Linked DNA regions of Homo sapiens: all the other regions are reported to be linked to region 1. Evidence: microRNA targets listed by miRTarBase, many of them from high-throughput screens and not tested one by one. Region 1 holds a microRNA gene; each other region holds the end of a gene's coding sequence.
The links. The annotated mature microRNA hsa-miR-3688-3p reads UAUGGAAAGACUUUGCCACUCU and lies in region 1 at 866-887, shown strand. An mRNA with a match to its seed (bases 2 to 7 or 8) in the 3' UTR can be bound and repressed. Matches are read on the target gene's strand: a 7mer-m8 pairs with bases 2 to 8, a 7mer-A1 pairs with bases 2 to 7 and ends in A, and an 8mer does both.

Region 1 (3,126 bases):
TCTATGCCCTGGACTGCAGTTTATTGCCTTGGATTATATTTAGGTATGTATATATATGTTTGCTTTCCTTGAATTTTGAACTCCCTGTTTTATACATGTACCTTATAACCTTTCTTTTGTTAGGAGATACTTTAAATTGTACGTTCTATTTCATCTAGTAAAATCCAAGAAGAAAAAATACTGAGACTAATAATGTCTTAACTTTTACATTACTGTCAATCTAATAGTACATTTTGGGGCCTAATTCTACTGAGGAAGACTAGCTGGAAGAGAGGGACTGATGTTGTATCCAGTTACTCTCCACGTGACCCTGGAAATTTTCATTGGATCTTAGTTTTCTCACCTGTAAAATGGAACACAATGCTTTCCATACCTATTTTCAGGGTTACGTAAGTTTAATATATGAGAAAGTACTTCGCAATGGAAAAGTCTACATGAATGTAAAGTATTACTATTGCTGACATAATAAAAATATTAGTGTCAGTAGAAATTGTGAGTCATTTATAAAGATAATAGGCTAAGATCTTCTTAATATTCTTAACATTTGGCTAGTAGTTTATTCACCCCTCTTTTTGGTGAATACAAAGCAGTAAAACCATGTTTTCAAATTATTATTTGGTTATGCAGGTTAATACTTATATGGATTATTTTAGAAGTACAGGCTTCATGTTGAGTTTTGTAAAGAGCTTTCTCTTTGCCAAAACATTTTCAGACTTCAAAGAACCATTGTGTAAAAACTCTTTTACACCAATGTATCTTAAATAGTTTTGATCATTTTATTTAAATAAAGAAGCTGAACCAAAAGTTCTTCACTTTAAAGAGTGGCAAAGTCTTTCCATATGTGTAACAGACATACATACATACATATGGAAAGACTTTGCCACTCTTGAAAGTGAAGAGTGTGTGTATATATATACATATGGGGGGTGTGTGTGTGTGTGTGTGTGTGTATATATATATATATATAAATCTATTTTAAGTATATTTTTTGGAATACATATTTGTAGAAGAAAAGATTTGTAATTGTATGATATGAATGGATGCAGTCTTTTGATTATTGAAATCTGTCATCATTCTGTATTTAAATTTGAATGCTGCTATGTGATCTTAGACATGGAGGCAGAAACTTGCATAGAAATGTAATAAGAATAAGAATCTTGAATAGAAATCTTATCGCTTTCTTTTTGAAGAATTTGAAAAGCAATTAGAATTGCTTTCATATTATAAATGCTCACCATTGAAAGGTGCAATATTAATGAATCTTTATATTATGCCTCTAGTTATCTCTTAAGAGTTACTTTGATAATATAGACCTTTTGAAAGTGCCACACTGATGGTTTCAGGTTGCCTGTCAGTGTAATAATACATAATGCTTACAGTTATGGTGTCAGTTCTTTATTTTATGTTTAGGGAGCACATATCTCAGAACAGTTCAGGAAAGACATAGAAAAGCAGTTGTCATTTATAAAGTGTGTGTTATGTGCCAGAAAGTCACCTAGATGTTTTCTTATGGTTTATTCAGTTCTAACATCAACCTTATAAAGCATGAGGTACTATTATCAATTTACCAATGAAGAAACTGAGATGCAGGGATTAAGTAATTTGCTTAAGAACAAATAACTGATTTCAAAGTCCCTATTCTATCCACTCTACTCCCCCTATAATAAGAGCAGGTGTAAATGTCTATGTTGTTGTTAATAAAGACTTTTACAAAATGAAGTTCTAATTTAGTTAGGATGTTTTTCTCTTTTTCGAGACAGTGTTACTGGAAAGGGGTCCCAATCCGGACCCTGAAAAGAGGGTTCTTGGATCTTGGGCAAGAAAGAATTTGGGGTGAGTTCATAGAATAAAGTGAAAGCAAGTTTATTAAGAAAGTATGGGAATAAAAGAACGGCTACTCCATAGAGCAGCCCTGAGGACTGGTGGCTGGCTGTTTTTATGGTTATTTCTTGATTATATACTAAACAAGGGGTGAATTATTTATGAGTTTTCCTGGAAAGGGGTGGGGATTTTCCCCAGAACTGAGGTGTTCCTCCCTATTTTAGACCATACAGGGAAACTTCCAGACATTGCCATGGCATTTGTAAACTGTCATGGCGCTAGTGGGAGTGTCTTTTAGCAATCTAATGCATTATAATTAATGAATAATGAACAGTGAGCACTACCAGAGGTCACTTTTGTTGTCATCTTGGTTTTGGTGGGTTTTGTCTGCTTCTTTACCTTGTCTTATCAGCAGGGTCTTTTTGACCTGTATCTTGTGGTGACCTCTTATCTCATCCTGTGACCAAGAATGTCTAACCTCCTGGGAATGCAGTCCAGTAGGTCTCAGCCTTATTTTACCCAGCCCCTATTTAAGATGGAGTTGGCTCTGGTTCAAATGCCTCTGACAACAGGGTCTTGCCCTGTCACCTAGGTGGAATTGCAGTGGTGTGATTATAGCTCACTGCAGTGTTAAATTCTTGAGCTCAAGTGATCCTCCCACCTCAGCCCCCCAAGTAGCTAGAACTACAGGCATGCACATTTTTCTTTATTCAAATTTCTCTGCTAGGTCATTTTTATTTTAGAGATGAATTTCGGATCTAAAGTCTAATTTTATTAAAATTAAAAATTTTTAAACAATTAGAGTTAGTAGAGTAGGACTGGAAGGGCTTCTTTTAATTTAGACCCAGGCTTAGCGAATAAATTACTCTAAATAAAAGTTATCTATTATTGTTTTATTTTATTTTATTTTTTGGGACAGGATGTTGCTCTGTTGCCTAGGCTGGAGTGCAGTGGCACAATCTCGGCTCACTGCACCCTCCGCCTCTCAGGCTCAGGTGTCCTCCCACCACAGCCTCCCAAGTAGCTGGGACCATAGGCGGGCACCACCACGTCTGGCTAATTTTTGTATTTTTTGTAGAGACGGGGTTTCACCATGTTGCCCAGGCTGGTCTCAAGCTTTCGGGCTCAAGCAATCTGCCCAAAGTGCTGGGATTACAGGCGCAGCCACACCCAGCCAGCTATTATTATTTTAACTTTACCTTTTTAAATAGCATGTTTTACTCTCCAGGTTTATTTGAAAATAATACAGAGTTTCGCGTGTTGTTTTGTGTGTGTGTGTGTGAGAGAGAGAGAGAGAGAGAGAGA
Region 2 (3,126 bases), not on the chromosome of region 1:
CACCCCGCCTGGCCTGTTATGTTTTTTAACATTGGTCTTTCGGCCACCAAGAGCCCAGGAAGGCCACACGCACAGCTCTGCCAGGTGCAGCCCAGATGTCCAGGGCTCTCTGGTCCAGGACACCGTGGCCTGGTCTGCCCTTATCTCCAGGCCTGAAGCCCCACCTGTCCAACCTGGAGACAGCTATGCAAGGTTCTCTTGCCAGGTGCTGTTTAATCTTGGGCCCTCCAGGGCCTGGAGCAGCTTCCAGGGCCAGTCCTCCGTGCCCCCACCCAAGGACGTCCTCACTCCAGCAAGCTCAGCCACATGCTCAGCAGTCAGGGCCACTGAGGCCACAGCCCCACCGCCACCCACACCAGGCTGTCCTAGAGGGCCACCCCAGCCCTGGAAGCCCTCTCAACCCTTCCTAGAGGCCCAGCCAGTGGCAACAGACCTTGGAGGGGACACTTCCTCTAGAGGCCTTGCTTGGCCTCAGCCAGCCCAGATAATAGCCCAGGAGCAGAGGAAACAGGCAGCAGAGTGACAGAGACGGAGCTGGGCTTCCCCGATAGCAGGGAGCTGCCTGGGTAGCGTGGGGTGCACAGCCAGTGGGGTGGGCTATTTGCTACCACCACCCCCTATTTACTAATGGAGACACTCATTAGCTCACAGGTGCCCTGTAGGAAGCTCCACGTCTGTTTTCTCATTTGTATGATGAGAGGATAAAGAGGTGGTATCCGGGAAAGAAAGGGGCTTTGTGTTATGCGTGTCCATGAGGACAACACTGTACCCCCGAGTTTGGCAGGAGAGGAGAGGCAGGCAGTTTACCAGGGCAGCTCGAGGTGCAGTCAGCCTCCTTCCCTGCCCCCACCTGGGACCCCTGAAGGGGTGGCAGGTTGTGGGAGAGAACCACAGTGACAGAGGTTGGTGGGCAGCACGACTCGGGTAGGCTGAGCACCTGCAACCCTGGGCAGGGAGGCTGGCTCCCCTCCTACTGAGTGTCTGTTCTCACAGACGTGACCACAAGCACCCAGCCCCTCCACCTTCAGCAAGCAGCTCCCTGGATGCACCCTCCCTCCCAACACATCTCCACCTCCACCTCCTGGGCATTGCTGTCATCATGGGTCCTGCTCCCTGCTGCCCATCTGGTGCCTCTCCCAGCCTCCCAGCTTGGGGGCTGCACACGGTAGCCCATGGCCAAGGTGCCTGTAGGGTGGAAGGCAAGCTGCTCATCAGCTTCAGAGAGCCCACTGACCTCCAGGCATCCTCTCTTGTCCCCAACATTCCCCCCCTACTCCTGCTACCCACCTTGCTGCGGCAGCATGGGATTGTCCCACCCTCCACCCCTAGGGCTATGGGGCTCACCCCTAGGGCTATGGGCCTCCCTCCGCCTCCCACTTGAGGCGCCACTCCCACTGCCTCAAGGGTCATTTGCTCTATGAGGCCCTGCTTTGACCTTCTCCCTGACCTCTCAAGAGTGTGGCCTGCCTGAGTCAGCAGTGGGGGCTGACCCCTGGGGACCACTACGCAGGAAGTGCCTGGGAGCCAGGTATTGATGTGGTTCATGGCAGGGCAGCTCCACGCGGTGATGGAATGCGGACTCCCTGTAGGTGGCTGAGAGGCAGCAGCAGTCCACACCTCACCAATTCTTGTGAGGGCTGTTACCACACCTGGGGTGGGCAGGCAGGCAGCATCGCGCAGGGCACAGAGGCCCCCTAGACTCCACGCAGTGGGGCCTCACCATCACAGGCGTGGCTTCCCTGCACCAAGGGGCAGAGGCCCAGGAGCAGGGCCTGCCGTGGCAATGGCCCCCATCCCCACACCCTGCTGGTGTCCCCACTTGAGGCCCCTCACACCCAGCCACCACTGGTCAGGCCTCACCAGCATCTTCTCCCCTCCACAGCTCACCTAGACTCTTCCCCCAGGGAGCCCTCCTGGAATGAGCAAGTGCTGTGCCAGAGCCCCTCTCCCTGTCCATCAGATGGTCCTAAAGTGACCTGAGCTCTTCCTGGGATGAGGGTGTGCCCAGGAGGGGGTCAAGTCTGAAAGGATGGTGGGGCTGGGCCCCGGCAGGAATGCTGGGAGCCAAGCTTCCCGCCATGGGGTTTCCAGACTAAATGGCATCAGGCAGCACCCAGAGAGCAGGTACAAAGGCCACACTGTGCGCCACATGCCATCGGCCAGGCCTCGCCCTCTGTGCTGCCTCTGTGGGGAGCGCTTCTTCCCTTCCTCTTCAGATTGCTGGCTCCTTCTCAGTGCTCAGTAACACCTGCCTCAAGGCTGGGCACAGTGGCTCACACCTGTAATCCCAGCACTTTGGGGGGTGGAGGCGGGTGATCACCTGAGGTCAGGAGTTCGAGACCAGCCTGGCCAACATGGTGAAACCCCGTCTCTACCAAAAATACAAAAACTTAGTCGGGCGTGGTGGCAGACACCTGTAATCCCATCTACTGGGGAGTCTGAGGCAGGAAAATCGCTTGAACCTGGGAGGCAGAGGTTGTGGTGAGCCGAGATCATGCCACTGCACTCCAGCCTAGGGGACAGAGTGAAACTGTCTCAAAAAAAAAAAAAAAAAAAAACTTCCCTTGAAAGGCCCTCCCTAGCTCCCCCTTAATTAAGCAGGACCCCCTACATTCTCCCTTTCAGCCCATCTGCGCCCTCACCATTCTCACCCAGTCTGTGATGATGCCAGAATGCCTGGCGCTCAGCGAAACAGCCATTCATAACCAAGGAGATGGCCGCAAACCACAAGTGTTTATTGCAGAAATCTGGCCAACATTCCAATTGCAGGGCCCCAGCACAGGGCTGGGCAGGTGAGATAGGGAGGGGTGGAGGAAGTAATCTGGCCCAGGGCCTCAGAGCTGTGAGATGATATTGGGTGCCAGGCTGCAGGTGAGGCCTGTGCCATCTGGTTCCACATTCAGGGCCTTCACTATGCCATCCTGTACCACCATGGAGAACCTGCCGGAAAGAGGGGCCCAGCCAGCTGCATCAGCCTGGGCTTGGAGGCTGGGCATGGAGACAGGCAGTGAACAGCCAGGGGCCCAAGAGAACTCCAGAGAGGACTCCCCCCACAGAGGACTCTCCCCCACAGAGGACTCACCACCACACAGGACTCTCTCCACACAGAGGACTCTCCCCACAGAG
Region 3 (3,126 bases), not on the chromosome of region 1:
AAGGATGCTGTTAACGGACGCCATGCTCTCTTCCAGGTTTGTTGGTGGACCAAAGTAAGATCTACAGCAGGGCCTTCTACTCCTGCGCAGCTGGCATGGCCCTGGCTGCTGTGTGCCTCGCCCTGGTGAGACCGTGTAAGATGGGACTGTGCCAGCATCATCACTCAGGTGAAACAAAGGTAGTGAGCCATCGTGGGAAGACTTTACAGGACATACCTGAAGACTTTCTGGAAATGGATCTTGCAAAAAATGAGCACAGAGTTCACGTGCAAATGGAGCCGGTATGACACACTTTCTTACAACAACAGCCACTGTGTTGGCTGGAGAGGGATGGGGTGGGCCCAACGGGGACACAAGGAGGCAGAGGAGCTAACCCCTCTACTCCACTTTCAAAACTACATTTTAAAGGGAATGTGTATGTGAAGAGCACTACCAACATCGCTTTTGTTTTGTTTTGTTTTGTTTTAAGCTTTTTTTTTTTGCTTGTTTTTAAAGCCAAAACAAAAAACAACCAAGCACTCTTCCATATATAAATCTGGCTGTATTCAGTAGCAATACAAGAGATATGTAGAAAGACTCTTTGGTTCACATTCCGATATTAAAATAGTGACATGAACTGGCAAAGTGGTTTTAAAAGCTTTCACGTGGGATAAATGATTTTCTTTTTTTCTTTTCTTTCTTCCTATGGTCTTGTCTGAATAAACTACTCTCCTGAATAAAACAACATCCAACCCAGGTCATTGAAATGAAATTGGCCAGTCAAAAAAAAAAAGACTTCAATCATTTTTAAAATTCCTAATTTTCAGAAATATGAATAAATAGTTTTTGTTAAACCCTTTGTAAAATACCAAGGTTCCCGTTAACAAATTACGGCCTCTGCTTGCTGGAAATGAAATATAGTTTAAGACCAAACATTTTACTAATAAACAAATTTTAAGTATATATATATATATATAACTTGAACTTCATAAATGTGAAGATTACCACTTCTTTTTATGGCCAGTCCTTATCAGAAGTGTTTCAGTACAGAATATACAAAATGGCATTTAAAAATGTGTTTCCTGTTGCTTTTAGTTATACAGAAATATGTGACTGTAGTGTCTTTAATTTAAACCGCTATTTATTATTAAGTTATTCTAGGATGATTAAAGTAATCAAAAGAAATAAAATCTGAGACATAAGCAGCATTTTTACCTCCTTTCTGCAATCCTTTAAATGCCTCACAGAATACGTCTTATCTTGTAAAAATACTTTCATAAAAGGCCAAGTTGTCATGATTCTTCCATTTGATTAGGGGCAACGTGTGCTATTAAAGGGGAAAAAATAATGGATTGCAAATCGCCTTAGCTTTCAAAACTAATTTGTTTTATCATTTAAGAATACTTGAGGAACTTCTTTGATCAGAATTATATTTCAGAGAATTGTTAAAGCATTTCTGATTTAAAGAAAAAACCATCTAATTATTGAAGCATTTCTGTATTTCACATGGGGGTAACAGAGACAATTATGTTATAGCGAGTTACAAGTTGCAATTTACATCTTCTATAACACATGACTTGATTGGTCTAAGTTGCCAGAGGTATCGGGTAACTGGTCATTGTTTTGTTTTGTTTGTTTTATTCTTCCTTTTTTTTTGGAGTCACACTACATGTATAGTATTGCTCACGTTAGCAGTTTTCTGTAAGGAGGGCAAGTGTCAGGATAATAGGTGGACTTTTTACTCACCTATTTTACCACAATCTCACCCTGCAGGTGATGGTCAATGCTTGCTGCTCCATCTTTATTCATCGTTAATGTTAATTTATGACAACTCAGGGGGAAAAACATAACAAGCCTAGTTTGGTTACAGGTACACACAAGCTTGAATATTTCTCTGCACTGAAATGAAAGTGGCATAGTTCATCACCACCTGCTACATTTTGTAGAGCATCTTATCAGCCATAGAAATAGGACAATCTATAAAACTTTGGGGAGGGTGGGGGAGGAAATGACAAAGTGTCTGTCAAAAACAGGCATAATCTAAAACAAGGTGGATGTAGCAAATCTCTGTCACTGCTTGAGAACTTTGAGCTTGTGGCAGTTTTGCAGACTTACATGACTTCAGCACTTTACGACATATTTTTTACTATGAATGTTCAATACAATTTAATATTTATAACTGATTTCTGAGGGATCTGCTCCATGTCTATTCTGTTATCTGCATGAAAACAAAATGTATGCCAATTTCAGTATGTCAATAATCAAGGTTTTAAATGTTTGGAAGAAAATACAAACAAGATTGCTGATCTGTTCTGTATTAGTGACATTCTGGTACTTCTAGATTTGCAATAAATTTATGGATTTTTTATTTAAAGAGACCGATTCTCTTCTAAGATTTTTTATTGACTCTCACAGCATTCAGTGTTTGAGGCAATTAAAGTTATAAAAACTCACCAAAGATTCACTCCAAATAAATAATTTTTTAACGTTTATCTTCTGCAAAACCTTTTAACTCTACTAGAGACACATAAAGTTTCCCAAGAAGTTTCTACTGAACTTTTTATTTACTTATATTTATTATTATTATTTTTTGAGATGGAGTTTCGCTCTTGTTGCCCAGGCTGGAGTGCAATGGCACAATCTCAGCTCACTGCAACCTCCGCCTCCCAGGTTCAAGTGATTCTCCTGTCTCACCCTCCCATGTAGCTAGGATTACAGGTGCCCGCCACCATGCCTGGCTAATTTTGTGTATTTTTACTAGAGATTGGGTTTCACCATGTTGGCCAGGTTGGCTTCAAACTCCTGACCTCAGGTGATCCACCTGCTTCGGCCTCTCAAAGTGCTGGGATTACAGGTGTGAGCCATCATGTGCAGCCTAAACTTTTTTATGTCTTTTTTTTTTTGTATACTTTTTATACAAAAAAAAAGTATATATATACATATATATACTTTTTATACAAAAAAAAGTATATATATACATATATATACTTTTTATACAAAAAAGTATATATATACATATATATACATATATATACTTTGATCATTGAAAACAGGACGATTTTATTTTATGTTGAGTTTCATACGAACTATTTTAAAGCACCTTAGAAAAAGACTAAATAATTCAAGGGAAGTATTAAGTAATGAATA
Region 4 (3,126 bases), not on the chromosome of region 1:
CAAGGCTGCAGAGTTAAGTGCTAGACCTGGATTCAAATCCAGGCAGTCCAGCTACAGAACACTGCTGCTGTGCGCTCGGGATGGTGGGGCTGGGCCCAGGCCCGCTGGGTATACATGATCTTTCACTTGTTAACTAGGGAAAAACACTAGTCACCAGTGTGGTACAAACTTGTACTTAGGTGGATTCTTCAAATTGTCAAGATTAGTTTTTATAAATTAAAATAGACTGAAAAATGTCTTAGAGACATCTTTTGAACCAAATCCCATTTCAGTGACTATTTTGTCTGGATTTCTCAGGTGAAAGAGTTAATCAAAGAATGATATGTCTCTAAAAGATGACTTACGCTGGCAATGAACTCCTTTTAAAACAGCGTCATACTAAAGTTTATTTTTCTTTACACAATTATAGAATTCAGGCAGACAAGGAGACATATATGGAGTTTTCCATTTTTAATATTTGGTTAAACAAAATACATCTTTTGTAAACAAACGCAGCACAAGGCCAACAACAAAAAGGAATAAAAGCAAGAAAAACAAAAAGCCTAGGGTTGCCCGTTATTGGGCATCAGGGTCAGGCCTGTTCACTTCCTTAAAGGAAGTGGGGCTTTTTGCCCTTGGGCATCAGCATGGGTCCCTGTTCCTAAGCACCAGAATTGGATATGAACAGAGAAACCAGCCCTGAAATGTTTAAGCGTCTTTGCATATCCCATTGGCTCATGGACTCCAAGTGCATGGGGACTCTTTCAAGTGCCATTTGCACAGGCCCAAGTGGATTTGTGGAGAGGAGTTTCCTCCTCTACCCAAGAAATGGCTTACTATCTGACAGTGCCAGTGGCCCCAAGGTCCTGCTTGTGACAATCAGCAAGGTTGGCTGTAATGTCTGGCTGGTGGTGGTTGGAATGTCATTGTGCAGGGCAGGAAAAGAGCTCCCTGTGGTGCCAAGCAGGTCTGGTGTAGAAAATGGTGCAGAAGAGACTGCGGCCAGTTGCTGAGAAGATATAACGCAGTAGCCGCTTGGTGGCCTGTTACTCAGCATTAAAAAAACGGCCTTGTTGGATTGAAGATACATGTGCAGAAAAAGTGCTGGTGTCAACATGCACTCCAGTCACAGGGGGGAGAAAGCCCAGCTTCACCCCGTTAAGCTTGCTCAGGATCAACATGCAAGCCCCAGGCTGGCTTTGCTGCTGGAGAGAAGTCTGGCCAGTGGGACAGCTCTCAGACCTGCCACGACCATTGATCTGAGGGCCAGCAGGTCACCCCTGCCTGCCACCTGCCTTGAGGCAACCACATCCACTTTGGAGACACGCATATGGTATGATACTTATTTCTCCTCTTTTGTTTTCCAAAGTTACAAGAGAAAAGTGGCCTACAACTATCTGAAGAGGTAGGGGCGGGTTGAACTTCCATTGATACAGAGAGGAAACGACATGAAGATGACCAGCCCAGGTCCTATTCCATCCATACAGCACAGAACCACCCAACCTGAGCTTGGCAACTACAGTGGCAGCCTCCGAGCCTAGAGTGTCTACTGAATTGTGGCTGCCCCTACTCCAAGAAGCCTGTCTTCACAATACTTTCCTCACCCAACGCTGCCCCAAATTAGTGGAATTTGATGTCAAAAGCAGACTTTTTTTTCCTGATTTTGCCAGAGTGAGTGAACTGGGAAAACTGCTCTTTGGCTTCTCTTTTGTCCCAGAGCCTCCTAAATCAATGCTGCGAAATGGTAGGGACAACACTGGAGTGAAGAAACCAAGCCACCCCATGGCTGTCCCAGGTTGGCTTTAGCCACATCCTGTTCAGTATCCTCCTCACTTCATACTAGAATATTAGTTAATTTTTCATTATAAAACTCTGCCGGGTGCGGTGGCTCACGCCTGTAATCCCAGCACTTTGGGAGGCCAAGGCGGGCAGATCACTTGAGGTCGGGAGTTTGAGACCAGCCTGACCAACATGGAGAAACCCCATCTCTACTAAAAATACAAAATTAGCCAGGTGTGGTGGCAGGCGCCTGTAATCCCAACTACTTGGGAAGCTGAGGCCTGAGAATCGCTTGAACCAGGAGGTGGAGGTTGCAGTGAGCCGAGATGGTGCCATTGCACTCCAGCCTGGGCAACAAGAGTGAAACTCAGTCTCAAAAACAACAACAAAAAACCTCCACGTATGGCCATAAACCACCCTTAAACCTGGGGATAAGGGTTGGAGACAGCATGCTGTACCGCTGCTAGGGTTTTGGACATGGTTTCCTGAGAGACCTTTATGCTCTGGGTCCTTCAAACCAGTCACATGGGGTTTGTGGGCACTATCTGCAGACCCACTGTTTTCAGACCCAGACAGGATGGAAAGTGGAGGCAGCATCTCTAGGTGAGTCTGGAGCAGCAGTGACAACTCAGCAGAACCTGTGTCAAGTCCTCATAGAAAAGGGAAAATAAGCTAGGATTCCCTCCCCGCTCCACTTTCTCCTCTGTCTCTTAAATAAAACAAGGGTTTGTGACCACTGGCCTTAAGTGCACAGAACTCCTACCTTCCTTGCCCAGGAACAAAACACTGAGTAGTTCTTATAACAGTCCACACGTCTGTCCTATTGCACTGTCAGATCTGAAGGGGAAAAACTTGATGAGATGTTTGGGGAAGTGGCAAGGGCAGACCCACTGTAGAGGCCACAGCACGTCACAGAGGACTGAAGGGGCTGAGGCGAGAGGGAGGTTGGGCAGAACTGTTACACATCGGTCCTCCAACTCTGATGAGCCTCTACCTCTTCTGGTACCACCAGCAGGAGTTCACAGTTCTTTCCTCGCAAATGATGTTTTAGAAACTTCCTATGGAAAAAGAGATAGAGAAAATGAAATGCTGGCAAGTTGCAAATTCCAGTCTCAGGACCACAAAGTCACCTGAAACCTCACTCTACCCTCGGCAGTCCAAAACACATCCCTGTAGTCATCTGGTTTTGGAGGGTTCCACATTTGGTTACCCTCCAATCTGTCCAGTTAAAATTCCAACCTGAATTTTGCTCATCCTTGTAGTTACTGCCAAGAGTAGCTGGATCTGTGAATAACAGTACCCAAAGTATATAAAGGACTTTTTCTTGGTTTGTTTGGAGACGGAGTTTCGCTCTTGTCGCCTGGGCTG

Region 2: the mRNA of PRDX5 is a reported target of hsa-miR-3688-3p. The part of its 3' UTR that is shown has no 7-base or 8-base seed match.
Region 3: the mRNA of SLC16A6 is a reported target of hsa-miR-3688-3p. Seed matches in the 3' UTR shown: 7mer-A1 at 522-528.
Region 4: the mRNA of JOSD1 is a reported target of hsa-miR-3688-3p. Seed matches in the 3' UTR shown: 7mer-m8 at 2,336-2,342.

Annotation. Positions count from the first base shown.
Region 1 is chr4:159,127,996-159,131,121 of GRCh38, forward strand. MIR3688-2 (microRNA 3688-2) reads left to right here and starts at 810; the gene lies at 810-896. All of the region lies in intron 1 of RAPGEF2 (Rap guanine nucleotide exchange factor 2), which reads left to right. It overlaps MIR3688-1 (microRNA 3688-1), which reads right to left and starts at 899; the gene lies at 807-899.
Region 2 is chr11:64,321,400-64,324,525 of GRCh38, reverse strand. PRDX5 (peroxiredoxin 5) reads right to left here. Exons shown (of 6, transcript NM_012094.5): 6 at 2,715-2,940. The coding sequence ends at 2,835. Among named protein-coding and RNA genes, the nearest start is that of PRDX5, 4.8 kb to the right of the region's middle.
Region 3 is chr17:68,266,257-68,269,382 of GRCh38, reverse strand. It overlaps SLC16A6 (solute carrier family 16 member 6), which reads left to right. Exons shown (of 6, transcript NM_004694.5): 6 at 37-2,357. The coding sequence ends at 287. It also overlaps a transcript of ARSG not described here. Among named protein-coding and RNA genes, the nearest start is that of AMZ2, 20 kb to the right of the region's middle.
Region 4 is chr22:38,685,186-38,688,311 of GRCh38, forward strand. It overlaps JOSD1 (Josephin domain containing 1), which reads right to left. Exons shown (of 5, transcript NM_001360236.2): 5 at 358-2,816. The coding sequence ends at 2,717. TOMM22 (translocase of outer mitochondrial membrane 22) reads left to right here. Exons shown (of 4, transcript NM_020243.5): 4 at 1-236. Among named protein-coding and RNA genes, the nearest start is that of TOMM22, 4.8 kb to the left of the region's middle.